Linked DNA regions of Homo sapiens: region 2 is linked to region 1. The links come from fine-mapping of genetic effects on gene expression. Tissue or cell type: testis. Region 1 holds a variant in brackets; the other region holds the start of a gene. All regions are shown on one strand. Distances are between the middles of the regions.

Region 1 (8,141 bases):
TACTGGCTGTGCCTTTCATGGGATGCTTACTTATCCTGGTCGATGGCCTAAAGCCCAACCGTCCAGCTTACATCCAGGTATCCCTCTCACAGAGTACTTCTTTATACTGTAAGACACCCTGTGGCTCCTGTCTGACCTGTGTCTAGTTTATTTCTACCAAGGTAACCACTCTCTAGGAGAGTGCTAAGTGGGAGAAAAGTGATGTCCATGTGTGTTCGTAAAGTGAAATACAGAGGAGGCAACTCAACAAAATGTGTATAATGGCATGAGTCATGTATTACTAACCAATCCCAGTAAGAAGAGGGCAGCATTCCTTGAAGTGCAGATGGAAAGAGAAGAGCTCTCCAGGACATACACTCATAAGCAGCAGGGGTGGTGGAGGAGCAACTAGAGACAGACATAGTATTGCACCATTTGGCTGAAGTCTTTATGGGTGTATTTGTCAGTTGTTTTTTTTTTCCAGAGAGACAGGGAGGTAGATAGGTAGGTAGATAGATACATATATAGATGGAGAGTTGATAGATAGATAATAGTTCAATGAGCGGCATTTTGTTTGGGGATTTACTCATGTAACATTGTAGAGACGGAGCATTCCCGAGACAGCCATCTGTGAGTTTAAGGACCTTGGATGCTGTAGCGTTGGTGGCTCAGTCCAAAGCTGAAATCTTCAGAATCAGGGAAGCCCTTGGTGTAATTCTCAGTTTGGGACCAATGGCCTGAGAATCCAGGGCATTTACTGGTGTAACTTCTGGAGTTTCAAGGCCATAGATCATGGAATTCTGTTTTCCAAGGGCAGGAAAAGGAGTATACCTTCTTCAGGAGAGAGAGACAGGAAGACTTTTTAAAAATTTTTCATTTTTGGTTCTATTTGGTCCCCAAGGAGATTGTATGCTGCCTTCCCCCATTGAGGGTGGATTTTTTTCCACTAAATTCCCTGAGTCATACACCAATCTCCTCTGGAAACACCCTGGCAGACACACCTAGAAGTAATGCTTCACCAATTCTGTAGGTATTCTGTAATCCAGTCAGCGTCTTAAATTAACCATGACAAATCCAGCACCTTTCTAGTTGGCACCTATATGTGTCACCTTAAGCCATAACTAATCTTCAAATACAGACAATAACAAGGCAATAGTTCTACCTAACATTATGCAACGATCCTGTGTGCAACCAGAACACACTATACTATTTTTCTTAAGAGTAGTAGAAGTTTGTGGGTGATGTTTACTCTTCTGATACCCCATAACTTCAATACAAATATATTAAATTACTAACACTTAACTGCTAATATCAAGTTAATGCATTCTTGTGTTATGTGATAAAAGAAGAGAGAAATAAAAACAATGTTATTTGGCTAATAAATGTATATATAACATGCAAATGTATTCTTAAAGTAGATAGGAAATACTAGTGACAATTTTAATCCTTGTTTCTTTAACTGGTCACCTGGTCCTGTCTGCTATTTGTAACTCCCTTCTACTGCTACCCATTCAGTATTCTCTTTGTCTTCAGCAAGCCCCTCTGCTGGTCCTGGGTCTTTACCTGGCAGGGTGATGCAAACCTTCATTCCTGAAAGATCTGGATCATTTGTATTCTTGTCTGGAATGGTTGTAATATTCCATTGAACTTAATAACAGGGCATAGTAATACTAAGACTTTGTTTTAGTCCATTTTCTGTTACTTATAACAGAATACCTGAAACTGGGTAGTTGATAAAGAAAACACATGTGTTTCATACAGTTATGGAGGCTGAAAAGTCCAAGGTTGAGACGTTGTATGTGGCGAGATCCTGTTCCTGGTTGGAACTCTCTGAAGAGTTCTGAAGCCTACAGGGTAGCGTATGGCAATGGAGTAGAGCTTGCTGACATGCAAGATCATGTCTCCCTTCTTATAAGCCACTCTTCTCTCATAGTAGACTATTAATCTTTAAATATTAATTTATTAATCCATGAAAGGATTAATTCATTTATGGGGTCAAACTCTTCATGATCCAGTCACATTTTAAAGGTCTCACAATTCAGTACTGCCATGTTAGGGATGAAATTTCAGCATAAATTTTGGAGGGAAGCAATATTCCAACCACAGGACTCCACTTCTGACTCTAAAAATAAAGCCCTGTCACTTACAAAAAGTTTATTTAATTCCTATCGTTCAAAGGCTTAAATTGTTCTAGCACCAGCAGGAAGTTCCCAAATCTAAAGTCTCCTCTGTCAGCCCATGAAATCAAAACAAGTTATCTTCATACAAAATTCAGCAGTTGGGTTGTTAATGGTCAATGGGTTCATGTTGGCTGCTGCCCAGATAGAGTCACTTTATCAAGATAGGGGAATTGCTGTAGAGAAGATTTTATACATGTAGAGCCAGCTAAAGGAGAGAGCAGTTTTCGTATTACTCAAAACTGCTTCCCCAAATATTCAGAGGCTAGAGTTTTTATAGATAGTTTTGTGGGCAGGGGTTAGAGAAAGGGACATGCTGATTGGTTGGGTCAGGGATGAAATCTTAGGAAGTCAAAGCCATCTTCTTTACTGACTTCAGCTCCTGAGTGTGGGCCACGTATCCAGATGAGCCAGTTTATGGGTTTAGGTGGCACCCACTGATCTGTCAGAATGCAAGTTATGAAAAATACCTCAAACACCAATCTTAGGTTTTACAATAGTAATGCTATTTATAGGAGCAATCGGGGAGGTTATTAATATTGTGGCCTCTGATTGTATGACTCCTGAGCCATACTTTCTAATATTGTGGTTAATTTGTTAGTTTTACAAAGTTGATGTGGTCCCCAAACAATGAGGGGTTTTGTTTCAGGGAGGAGCTGTCATTATCTTTGTTTCAAAGTTAAGCTACAAAGTAAATTTCTCCCGAAGTTAGTTTGTTTTTGCCCAGGAATCAGCAAAGGCCTCTTGGAGGTTAAATGCAAGATGAAGTCACTTAGGTCATATCTCTCTCCCTATCATAATTTTCTTACTGTTACTGTTTTTGCAAACGTGATTCCAATTTCCCTTTGCAAGTTTCATTGCATCTTATTCTTAATGGGTGAGGTACAGAGTTGGGAAAAGGCCAAAGACCATTCTAACTTCTTCCTGCTGACAAGGGGTATACTTGGGATAGGGTTTGGCCCAGAGTAAATGGAATGAAACTGCTTTGCAGCTGCCTGCATGTATTCACAGGTGCCTGGTTGGGGTTCCTAGGCTTGCATGACCAAGATGTTAGTGCTCTCATCCACAGTTTTAGTACAGCACTTAAGTGAACAGCTGACTATAGGATAATGAGTCCTAATATAAGGAGTGGAAGTCCTAGCTTCAGAAGTCCTTATATAATTCATCTAAATCCCTGAGCGATTTGGGTGAATAGCGCCAAGAACCAGTCAGACATGGGGTCAATAGTCAAGAGAGATATGGGTCAGAGGTTGTTAGAAAGACAAATTTGGATAAACAGGAAAGAGCAAATTTAAATATACCATCTCATATCTTTTTAGTTAGTTTCCTAGTCCTCAGAATAGATCCCAGCAGTGTTTCATTCCAGGAGGCGTCACTGCAAATGAACTAGGCCCCCTTATGTGATTAAGGCAAAAAACATTTTTAATAACAGGCATTTGTATGGAAATAGAAAATAATAACAAAGATTTATATTGGGCACAATGCATCCAGATGTTAGATTCAAAGCATTTTTAAGTTGCAAAGGAGGATAGTGATGACAATCTCACATATTTCGCATCTGTATCTCAAGGGATAAGCTTCAGCCTGCAGGGCCTTGGGAAGAAGTTCGTAGCCATTTCATTGAGTCCAGGTCAGAAAAG[G/T]GGAAGAAAAATGTGAATGTGTTAGTTTGAGCACTTTAGCTCTGAGAGATTTCAGGATTCAGTACAAAATGCAGAAAACAATAAAAAGCTTAAAAACAATAGACAAGACTAGAATGTAACAACAGGTGTGCTATAGTATTTTTCTGAAATACAATGTTTCGCTCTCTAGTTCTCATTTTTTAAAGACATATCATAGTAGGACACATTTATTTGCAAAATAAGTTTTGGTATTATTATACTTAGCCTGATTATTTGCGTAAAGTTCAGCAAGAATAATTATTTGCCATATTAGCTCTTTCTAAATTGGGTTTGCTGGAACTTTGTTCCCTAAGGAATCTCGGATTGGACTTTTTTAAAGCCTTCAAGGGATGTATCTGTGCCTGCAAATACTTGTACAGATTGCTTGAAATTCTCTCTTCTTCAGCTCCCAAGATAATTTAGGAATCATAGGCCTGTCAGAATGTGACATTTTTTACTAACCACAGGTCAGGAACCCTGTACAAGGCCTGTGTAGACAGTTATGAGGTCAGTTTCTTAAGGGGCTTTTATCATGTCTGTTAGTCAACTTTAATTCCTCAAGCCTGTCTGTTTGTATCTGAAAGTAGGCCATTCCACTGGTAACATCATCACATCTTTGGTAAAATAATCAGTGTCTCCAATTGTGTTCTCTTACAAAAGAAATCAGATTCTTATTTTACTTATGTCAATAACTATATCTCCATAGTATAGAATACTCATAAATAAATAGTTTTCAAATTCTGGAGAAATCAAGTAGAGAAAATGAAATATCCTTCATCTTTTGTTCACAGGAATATACTTTACTCAATCATGAAAAGCTGTAAATAGCTGAGAAGAAAAAATGTTGTCTTGACTCTGAAAAACAACAAAAAAGATCAGCAACATTTCAAGCAACAAGTCATAAAAGGATTATTGTGGTGTTCTATTTCTTCTATTAGTTCAGTCCATGCAGTTAACTTTGTCTGACATTAGGCCTGCAGTCCTCATAAACATACCAGCTATCTCTGACAGTCCTGGAAGTTTGTTTGTTTGGTTTTGTTTTTTTCCTATTTCAATGCCACAATCTTTAGTTATCAGAAACCTGTATTCAAGAGAACATTTCAAAGAGCAAACACATTTTGAATAGTTTAAAAAAAAAAGAGCACAATAATCTGTGGGTGACAGTAATCTCAGGACAGCCATTGTTTTATTAATTTTACTTTGATTTTGTTGAGACAGGGTCTGAAGCCACGCAGGCTGGAGTGCAGTGGCACAATTATGGCTCACTGTAGTCTCACCTTCCTGGAATCAAGCAATCCTCTTTCTTCAGCCTCCAGAGGAGCTGGGACCACAGGCAAGTGCTACCACATCCAACTAATTTTTTGACTTTTTTGTAGAGAAAAGTTCTCACTATCTTGCTCAGGCTGATCTCAAACACCTGAGCTCAAGCAATCCTCCCAACTTAGCCTCCTAAAGTTCTGGGATTACAGGTATGAGCCACTGTGCCCAGTGAGGACATTACAGGCATGAGTCACTGTGTCCAATGAGGCCATTGTTAAAGACACAGTCAACAAAGAAATCTGGTCATTTCTGTGACACATAACAATTCAGCGTAATAATCATAATTATTACTGATAACATATACTAAGACATATTAGAATTATTTCTGAATATTCTTAATTTATGGTATTATAAGTTATTTGCATATGATCGATATGATATTTTTTTTTGTATCATGATACAATTGGAGACAGTAGTTACCTTGCCAAGGCTTTGGCTGGAATAGCATATTTTCATCTATGAGCAGATTGCTTTGACAAATTTAGGTTGAATAATAGAGCCAATAAAATTCCCTTGGAGAGACTGGCCTTGTACCTTCTCTACAGATTTTCTAACCTGTGGTAAGAAAAGCATGTTACCTTCTGACAGGCCTAGGAACTCCAAGTAATCTTGCGACCTCAAGATGAGAGGAATTCACCCAGTTCATAAGTTATTTGCAGGCACAATAAATCCTTGTTTGAGCTTGAGGGGCTTTTTGAAAAGTCAAATCTTAGACACTTTGTTTAAAAAAAAAGTTCCATCAATGCCAAATTAAAAGAGCCTATATGGAAAAAAAAATATCCTTGCTGCACTTTGTGAAAATAATCAGGCCAAGTACAATAAAACGAAAACTTACTTTGGAAATAAGTTGGTCTTACTATGATTTTTCTTTAGTAAAAATGGAAGACTATAGAAAGAAAAATGTATTTCAAATGAAACTATAGTACATCCTTTATTGGATTCTAGCCCTGTTCATTGCTTTCCAGTTTTATTATTTGCCTACAATTTAGCTAGACTGGATCCTAAATTCTTTGCCGGTTACAAGTCTCCAAACTAACATTTTCAATGTTTTATTTTTTTTTCCCATTTTTTTCTGACTTGGAATTAGTAGAAATTAAAACTGTGCTTTGTGTAAAGCCCTGCACACTGAAACTAGAAAACTTAAACTTTGGGAGAAACAACAGCATCTTATTTATTTACATAAAAGATTTCAGGACTATCTAGTTATATATGGACTGCTCTGTAATATAGTCTATCAGTTTTCAAGGATTGCTTTCTACTTTGTTGCTATAATCCAGCTGTGTCTCTTTTTTCTTATCTTTTCCCTTTATTTTTTATTCCCCCTATTTCTTCACAACCTTCTAGAATGAGTCTCCTTAAAAATGTAGATCCTAACTTTCTAGGAATAAACCATCCTAATGTTGAAAGATTAGGGAAAAAATATAACCAAACACTCATTTTCTTCTAAAATGCTTTCTCTGAAATATTTTGAAGAACAAGGAAAATAAAATTTTGGGACCCCAAACTCACTGTGCCAAAGGAAAAGTTGGAAACTGAGTCATGCTAATACTACCTTCCTTTTGTTCCCAAAGAGTCAGCTGTAATTTCACAAGTTTGCCTATCTTATGTAAAATGTAGATCTACCACGCACAAGACAAATGCACAATTAACTTTTACCCCATTCCTCTTTACACATGCAACCTCTGGATGCAGTGAGTGCTAATTTGGATGTAACACTTGCCTCGCTGTCTTTCCCCCATTTCTTTATCCTCCATCCACTCCTCCCTGGTCTCACCTCTATAAATATGGAAGTCAGCAAAACCTTCTTTGGAAAAAGCACAGGCCACAGAGCCTACTGTGACTTGTGTTTCTTTATCCTTAAACATGGCAAAATAATTCTCTGAATTGAATGAGATCTGTGTCAGTCATTTTTGTTTTACATAGTTCTGCACTAAACACTAAGTCAATATTTGCTACTAGTGACAGCTTTTTCCAAGTAATTGCAAGAAGTATCGTATGTATCAACTGTAAAATACATCATTATTTTACATCACAATAAAAGCATAAAACTATTGAAAAACTATGACATCACAAAAATTTTATCTCATATATGTTGCAAATAACACTTTTTGTTTGAAATGCCTGTTCCTTGGTGCCATAAAGAAATACCACTTGAATATCATTTCCTCAGCAAGGCCATTTTTATATTTTCTGCAGAAAGGGTACACTTGCCAGCAGTTTTGCAATGAGAGTACACCGAACAAAGGAGACAGGGTCATTTATAACCTGATGCTTCCACCCTACTGCTGTGTCCGGTTTCCATTGGCTGGAACAGGACCTCACATTCTATATTTGTCCCAACTGGCTAGCAACTTAGAACTTTTTAAAAGAGGCAAAGGCAGAGGAGAACAAAGGAAGGAGGAAGTAACTTTTGGAATCTGGAGAAAGGTAAAAACACCTTCAAATAAGGAAGAGGAACAGGCTATGACCTAATGCTTGCTTGGACCAGTATAAGCATGCCAGGGGAAATATTTAGGCTAAATTGTGGGAACTAAGAACATAAAGTACATTCATTTCTTTATTACGGCTAGCAGATATTTAAGAATGTTAGCACAGGTCTTTGAATAAATTTTGCTTCTAAGAGAAGTTACTATGTATTCCTAATGAGATGGGGAGGAAAGTCTTTGAAGAGGAATCTCTACTTTACTTTTTACACTTTTGAATATAAATGTGTGTATTTATGTTTTATCACTCCTATGATCATATGAGATAGAAAGTAAAAGCAAAATAGGTAATCAAGGTTTTCTAAAATTTCTCATATTTGGATAAAACTCTTCTAAATCACTGTGCGTCTCACCTTGTCCATGGATTCTTCCTACATTAGCATCATCTCTGCTAATTAGGAGCTTTGCAGATGCCATATTTGTAGTGAGAGAACTATAAGAGTTTATGTTAGATTGTTTCTCATCTACTAACGTCCCTCTCCAAATTATGATGTTAAAGATACCACCAGAATGTGAAAATGGAA
Region 2 (8,141 bases), 20 kb after region 1:
ACAAGATGCATCCCTGTGTAATTTTCCGAGTGATGTTTTGAAAGTGTGGTCTACTGAGGTGTGGTTGTACTAGGTTGGCGAGGACATCACTCCCATAGTGCATTCCTTTATGTAGATGTTTTGAGATTGGATAAACCAAGGCCTTGGGGTTTCATCATCCTGTAGGCGTTATCTTATAGGTGTCAGTTTTCTAGGGGAATTGGAATCTCTTTTCTCAAACCCCTGGCTTGGGCACGTTTGGGATCTTGTTCAGTGTAATGAGGTTTAAAATCTAGTAATTCCAAATGGAGTATTCATGTCCCAGGACCTGTGCCTCCCAAGCAGCTCATTTTGCAGCTTTGCCAGCTGCCTGGTTACCTTCGGTTGTGAATTATGTCTCTGGTGTTGGGGAAGTGCATGATGGAAGCCTGGGCAGGCAAGGCAATTGCCTTTACTAGGTCCAGAATTTCTCTTGGGTGTTTAATGTCTGTATTTTCTGATTTCAAGCAACCTCCTCTATGTTTCCAGATCACCCAATTGGCGTGCATTTCCAGGAATGCATATATGGAATCAGAATAAATCTTTACTCCCATTTCCTGGGACAGTTCTAAAGACTCAGGTAAGAGCAATTAACTCAGCTCTTTGTGCGGAGGTAGCTGCAGGAAGGGTATGGACTACTATTACCCTTTTGGTAGTCACAGTGGCACATCCGGCTCTGTGCACATCTTTCATTAAGCTGCTCCCATCAGTGTAGTTCAAGTCCAGAGCACTCATTGTCTAGTTTGACAGGTTCAGCATGCTTGAATAAGCTGCATCAAGGATTTACAGTCATGCTTTAACCCAGGATTGTGTTCAGTGGCTGAGAGCAGTGTGGCAGGGTTTAGAGCCATGGTGGTTTGTAGGGTGATATTTGGATCATATAAGAGGATGGCCTGGTATCTGCCCACTCACCCCACAGTGAGCCAGTAGCCTCCCGTTTGTTCTAGCAGAGTCAGCACCTGATGGGGTACAAACAAGGTAACTGGCTGTCCCAGAGTAAATTGTTCTACTTCCTGTAGGACTTCACAGTGGGTGCTCTTGCCCAGAGGAAGGGGAGCCATCCCTTAATCTTTGGTGTAATTGTTTAGAGAAATAGGCCATGGATTGTGGGGCATCTCCCAGCATTTGCATTAGCACAACCCACACCTATGCTTTGTTTCTCTTGGATATAGAGTTTGAACAGCTTTTGGGAATTTGGTATCCCAGTGCAGGGGGTGATATCAGCTTTTCTTTGATGGTATAAAATGTTTGTTGACCTTTAGATGTCCAGAGAAGGGCCTCTGAGTCTAGTGAATCCTTTAAGGATTCATAAAGTGTTTTAGTCATTAGTCCAAACTTAGGAATCAAATCTGGCAGAAGCTAACCCTTTCTAAGAATCCCCATGGTTGCCCCCATTCTCTGGAGCTTTATGGCTGCTATTGCCTGTTTTTTGTTTTTTTTTTTTACCAGACCAGGCTCCTTTGGCCTTGCTTTAACCTAAAGCCAAGACAGGTTACTTTCTACTTACATATTTGGGGCTTCTTGGGAATACTTTGTATCCATATTGTACCAGGTGATTTAGAACTAAAATGACATCAGCTAAGCATTTCCTATAGTTGTGGCTGGCTATTAATTATCTATGTGTTGTAGCCAGGCTTCTTAATCTTGTTGTAGGTCTCCTAAGTCTTTTGCCAGTATTTCCCCAAAAATTGTTGGTGCATTTTTTAACACATTGAGACCCCACTGTCTAACAGTATTGAAAGGTTGTTTTAGTCTCTCGGTCCTGTCATTAAAAATAATAATGATAATTGTTGGGTCTTTTCTTCAATTGGAATGCAGAAGAAAACATCTTTCAGATCTAGCACTGAAAAGCATTCATAATGTCTATATATAGCAGTCAGTAGAGTATCTGGGTTAGGCACCACTGGGTGAATATCCAAGACTATTTTATTAACGGTTCTCAGGTCTTGGGCAAATTGATATTTGTAGAAGTGTAGCTTCCTTACAGGCACGATAGGGCTATTATATGGGGATCTGCAAGGATGAATCAGTCCACTTCTCAAATTTTTGAAAGACAGGCTGTATTCCTTCTAAGGCTTCCTTTCTTAATGTATACTGATTTTTTTATTCGCCTCCTCCCCGCCGCCCAGGTCACAGTAGCCCCTTCTATTTTTTCTATATGCACTCACTGTATATTTCTTGTTTTTCCTGGGATTCCTTCTGCCTATTCACAATTACGCACTCTCTCATAGACTTCTGAGGGAGAATTCTTGTTTCTTCTTAAGGCAAGTGAGTAACATCTTAGTTGCAGTGCTTGCTTTAGCAGGACCTGCAGCCATAGTTGTTTCTCTGGGGATAAATTACTTGAGTATTTAATTTGCATAATGGGTCTTTTCCCAGCAAGGGAATTGGGCATTCTTACATATAGAAATAGCAGTGCCTTAGGTCCAAACTTTCTAGTTTGCATTCTAAAGGTTGTAGGAAAGCCTTTTGTTGCATTATTCTTGCAACTCCTATCACAGGTACAATCATTTTGGTGCTTTTTGCTCATAAAGTGTTAAAACTGAATAGTTTGCCCAGTATCAACCAGGAAATCAATTAACTTTTTCCTCACTGTCAGTTGTACCCAGGGTTCCTGTGGGGAAATTTTAATTGTCTCTGAGTGATTAAGGAGAGTCCCCAGGCATCACTCTCTGTGGTCAGAGCAGTGACCCTGCTCCATGATTTGACTTTGAGCTTTTTCCTCATCATATTCCTCCTTTTTCTGGCCCCTTGGTCCTTTCTTTTGGGACAGTCATCCTTTCAGTGGCCTTTCTCCTTACACTAGGCACACTGGCTGTGTTCCAGAGGCTTGCCTCGATTTTTCTGATGCAGAGGCTTCCTTGTTCATTCCACGTTTATGGTTGAAACTTCTGTTTCTTTGTCTCTGGAGCGGGGAAGGGGTCATTCCTAGTGAGGCTTCCTGTTTTGGTACCCCTTTCCTGAGTCCAAACAGGAAGAATGTTTGTGAATATTCCAGATGGGCCATGTCCCCTTATCAATTGGAGCCCCAATTAGGGTTTGCATCCAGAATGGTCCCTTCAGGTTTGGGGTATTTGGATTTGTTTCATGGAGGCACCAAGACTCTGGACCTTCTTTGGTCTGCAGTCAGAAACATATTTAGGAGAGACTACACATCTGCTCAGGTACGCTGGTGGGTAGCACAGATAGACACATAGAGATCAGTCATTTTCTGGGGATCCATTGTATAAAGTGGGGTGGAGTTTTTCCATTTCACAAGTTAGATGTTGAAAATGGGCTGGATGTCCAGTAATGTCTGACAGGTTGCCCACTCTCATCCAAGCCACCCATGGCCATCCCTGTAAACGGTAATTCCTTTGCTCCGGCCATGGCAATTCCTTGCTAAATCATGTTCCCTGTCAAGCACTGGAGGGAGAGGCCGTCTCTGTTCTCTCATTATACTGAGGCGGCAGAGTAGCTCCCTCTTATTGGTCTGATGCCTCACTTGGTAGCATCAAGGCAATCCGGTCCAACGCAGAGGCCAGTGCTAAGGGCCCCGTATGGTGGTACTGCAGTGGGAGCTGTTGAGGTGGAGCAGAGGCCAGGTGCGTTCTGGCTGTGGTGGTTGGAGCTGCTAAAACAGCTTGGGTGTAGGACATTTAAAAGTCCTAATTCTTCTTCATTGCTTTCTGCCTGAGTTTGGCTCTCTGGCTTGTGAAGAGCCTTTTTTCCATTCTGTCCTTTGGTATAGCTAGCAGCTGGCATCTTCCCTCATGGTATGAATCCTGATTTTCGAAAAGCATGAAGGCTTGGACATATGGTAGTTTTTCCTAATTTTCCAGACCTCTGACAAAATGAGTCTAACTGCATTAAAGGCTAATATTGGTTGCGTCCATTCAGAGGTCAAAATTTATAACCTAACTTGTCCACAGTCCAAACAGCACTGCAATAATAGACCATTTTTCTGTTAGTCATGGGCTGATAGCTATAGGCTCTACAGTTAGCTAGGGTATGCCCCAGGGGCCTCCCAGAGGTGATAGAGACCTTGTTTCCCCTCCTGACGTGGTTTCTATGTCCATACTGCTCATCCCTGTGAAACAGTGATGACAACTTTTATTTGTTGTCTCTCTTCTGTTCTGCACTGCTCATATCCTTCAACCAGACCTCTATGGGTTGGAAAGACGTTTCTAGCTTCATATAAGCAGTGCAATTAATACCACTCATGGTCCTAAAAGGAAGACTTGTGGAAATCTCACCACACAGCTGGGACAGCCAAAGAGACCAGAGAATAAACTAGTTGGGCAGGCTAGTGATTAGCACCAGCTAGCACAGCACTCCCCCACCACCACCCTGCCCCCGCTCCACCCCCTGCCCCGGCCCACCAGCACATCAACTTCATCCCAAGTCCATGTTCTGCTGTCCTTAGTACCCTAGTAGATGGTAACCGAATGGCAACAAATTAAATGGTAAATTAGGCAGATAAAAAGGGCAGAGGGGTTGGAGTCAGGACTGCCTAAATACTTATCCCATATGCTGTTAAGCTTTTTTTCACATAAACAACATTAAGCACCATAAGCATGGTGGCAAGCCCTTTAGATAACCTATGGAATTGTTCACATCCTTCCTTTCCCCATAAAAACTGGCACAGCTGTGAGAAGTACTCCAGGGCCCTAAAAAGAGTGACCCTGCTAGGGCAGTGGAGGCTGTTTCCCTCCAGGGCCGGATCCTGGATGGAGTGGGGCTTATGCAGATCACCCTGCAGAGGAAAGGAGGAGGAGGAGAGAGAGACAGAGATGAGGGCCTAAATGTAGATATTGTACCTTTTACAGTTGCAGGTTCAGACTGCACAGTCCCGGACAGATCCCCACTAAAGGGCTGGGTAAACGTCCTGAAATCTCCTCTCAATTTCAGATGCCCTCCTGTCAATCAGCTGACTCCAAGTGGAGCAAAGCCCAGGTCTTGACGTAGATACAGATACCATACATGCCCAGATGATGTCACAAGCAGCTATATGTAAACAGAGCAGAGGTCAGGTGACATCACAGAACAGGCAGAGGCAGTTCAGGGGGTATTCTGGTTGCCTTACCCAGCTCTGAAGTCTGTCAGCCTCTTCAGATGTCACTTGCCCTGTGGTAAGGAAGTGTAGTTGGCAGCTGGTGCAGTGGCAAGAAGAGAAAGGAGGTTCCCCAAGACAGAAATATCTCAGCAGGTAAAGAGAAATTCCCTAGAGCCTCAATCATGGGATCAGCTAGTTGGAAGCAGGTGGCATTCCTGGGTAGTTTCTTTCCCTTCCAGTGAGCAGAGCGGTTAAGCCTTGGTGTGCTTGTGTGTCTGATTGCCCCACTCATTGGAAACCAGACCAATGGTTTCAGGAACTCTGAGTGTGTTCTTCCCCTCTATGTGTCCATGTGTTCTTATCATTTAGCTCCCACTTATAAGAGAACATGGAGATATTTGGTTTTCTATTCCTGTGTTAGCTTGCTAAGAATAATGGACTGCAGCTCCATTCACGTCCCTGCAAAGGACATCATCTGGTTGTTCCTTATAGCTGCATTGTATTCCATGGTGTATATGTGCCACATTTTCTTTATACAGTCTATCGTTGATGGACAATTTAGATTGATTCCATGTTTTTGCTATTGTGTATATTGCTGCAGTGGACATATGTGTTCATGTGTCTTTATAACAGAATGATTTATATTCCTTTGGATATATACTTAGAAATGGGATTGTTGGGTCAAATGGAAGTTCTGTCATTAGGTCTTTTAGGAATCATCACACTGTCTTCCACAATGGTTAACCTAATTTACACTCCCACCAACATTGTATAAGTGTTCCTTTTTCTCCACAATCTTGCCAGCCTCTGTTATTTGTTTGATTATTTGTTATTTGTTATTTTTTGACTTTTTAATATATACGTTCTGACTGGTGTTAGATGGTATTTCATTTTGGTTTTGATTTGCGTTACTCTAATAATGAGCGATGTTGAGAAGATTCAAATAAATGCAATCAGAAACAACAAGGGTGATATTACCACTGACCCCACAGAAATATAAACAACCATCAGAGAATATTATGAACACCTCCATGGACATAAATTAGAAAATCTAGAAAGAATGAAGAATTCCTGCACAAATACACCCTCCCAAGACTGAACCAGAGAGGAACTGAATCCCTGAACAGACCAAGAATGGCTCTGAAATTGAGGCAGTAATAAATAGTCTCAGTGACAAATTTTTAAAATGCCACTTAGAAAATGTACACATAATTTTGCTCTATTCAGCAAATATATCTGTAACAATCACTTTTAGGAAAGGTGTTAAAATATTTTATTATTTTTTCTCATTTAGCTTAACATTTTAAAAATACTTTTCTGCTGGCAACTATTTATATCTCCATTTTCATTGACATAGTCAATAATTTACCCACCTTTCTATTAAATAATAGTGGATCAACTGATGTGCATTATTTTATACTGAACTTTGGCACTCTTGACATAATTCATATACGAATAGTCATCCAAATGTCTTGGCCAGTGAAGATGAGATTTGTCTGCCAAGGTTGAACAGGAGTTTTCCTACCTGAAAGCGGCAAGCAGTACAAAAGCAAGAACATGGTAGATGAAATTCAGGAGTCCCACAAGCAGATGAGGATTCATTTAGGGCCTGAGAAGGTGCAGGGACCCCTCATAGGGGCCTGTGTACCACCCCAAGCATGGAAATAAAGGAAAATCTTGAGTCCCTTCACAGAAATTCCAGGCACCTCTCTACCTCTGAGAAGTACACGAGCCACTGGACAAGCAAGAAGGTAAAACAGTAGCAAGGAATGGAGAGTCATGGGAATATGGGGTTCCCTATGGAAACTAAAAATCAAAGCTTAGCATATGTCCCTGAGTTGTTGTTCAGAAAGCTGCCCCTCTACTAAATGGATCCACTGGCACATAGACCTCAGATAAAGGGGATCTATGAAATGAACTCTGCCATTCTTTATTCTCAATTTCTTCCTGAGTGGCCTATGGAATGTTACGTCTATGAGCCAAAAGTACCATTACTTTCTGCTGATCCCAAATTTTCTGACAAATTTTACTTTCTTAAATAATCACACATCAGAAAATCTCTGAATCCCCCTATGACCTGTAAGCTTCCACTTCAAGATACTTCATCCTTTTAGTCTAAAACCAATGTGTAACCTCAATATATTAATTTATGACTGTGTATTACCCCTCCCCTCTGTGTCTTTAAAATCCCCTACCTGTAAGCTGTCTGGTAGTTTTAGTCTTTATTTTATTTTATTATTTTATTTTATTTTGGGGATGGAGGTTTGCTCTCGTAGCCCAGGCTGGAGTGCAGTGACTCCATCTCAGCTCACTGAAACCTTTGCCTCCTGAGTTCAAGCGATTTTCCTGCCTCAGCCTCCTGAGTAGCCAGGATTACAGGCAGGTGCCACCATGCCCAGCTAATTTTTGTATTTTTAGTAGAGATGGGGTTTCCCCAAGTTGGCCAGGTTCGTCTCGAACTCCTAACCTCAAGCGATCCGCCCTCCTCGGCCTCCCATGGTGCCGGGATTACAGGTGTTGGCCACCATGCCCGGCCTGTCTGTGTGACTTCTTAAATGTTCTTTGATATTCTCCTGCAAACCTCATGATGTTCTCTTGTTTCTCAGATTGTAACGTGTTACATGAATTTATTCTTTCTATCCCATGCTTCCTTTTATTGATGCATTCTGTCCTTTAAGTAGTGCATTTAGAACATTGACATTTAAAGTGATTATTGATATAGTTGGATTAAAAATCTACCAAATTTGTTACCATTTTTCAGTTGTTGATTTGTCTTTGTTCTTATTTTTGTATTTCACTCATTTTCTACCTTTTGTTGTTTTGAGCACTTTATATCAGTTCATCTCATTTCTTAGCATATCTCTATTTTTTTACCTTTTTAGTGACTAGTCTAGGTAATAATTTTATGCTTAATTAATCTAACAAATAACAGCTTGTTAAAAACATTAGTTTGAATATATTTGATTAGATATGGTTAAATATATATCATTGTGTGTGTATATGTATACATACAAACATTTATGTGCATTTATTCTTATGTAAGTGAGATGAATAACTGCAATAGGTGATAGAAGGAAAGAATGTGGGT

Alleles and levels. Alleles are on the strand shown, and positions count from the first base shown. SD is a standard deviation of normalised expression in the study named.
For the expression in testis of the gene that starts at base 4,993 in region 2, G is the high allele of the variant in region 1 and T is the other (small effect, 0.18 SD a copy in GTEx).

The links. PIP is the estimated chance that this variant, and not a neighbour inherited with it, causes the effect.
Region 2: it holds the start of PWRN2, and the variant in region 1 is fine-mapped to the expression of PWRN2 in testis (GTEx, PIP 0.94).

What each region holds. Positions count from the first base shown.
Region 1 is chr15:24,145,423-24,153,563 of GRCh38, forward strand. The region is part of intron 2 of LOC105370732 (a long non-coding RNA gene); the gene reads right to left. It also overlaps a transcript of LOC105370733 not described here. Among named protein-coding and RNA genes, the nearest start is that of PWRN2, 20 kb to the right of the region's middle. The variant G/T (reference allele first, on the strand shown) is at 3,797.
Region 2 is chr15:24,164,956-24,173,096 of GRCh38, forward strand. PWRN2 (Prader-Willi region non-protein coding RNA 2) reads right to left here and starts at 4,993. Exons shown (of 2, transcript NR_152824.1): 1 at 4,818-4,993; 2 at 1-3,940. The region is part of intron 2 of LOC105370732 (a long non-coding RNA gene); the gene reads right to left. It also overlaps a transcript of LOC105370733 not described here.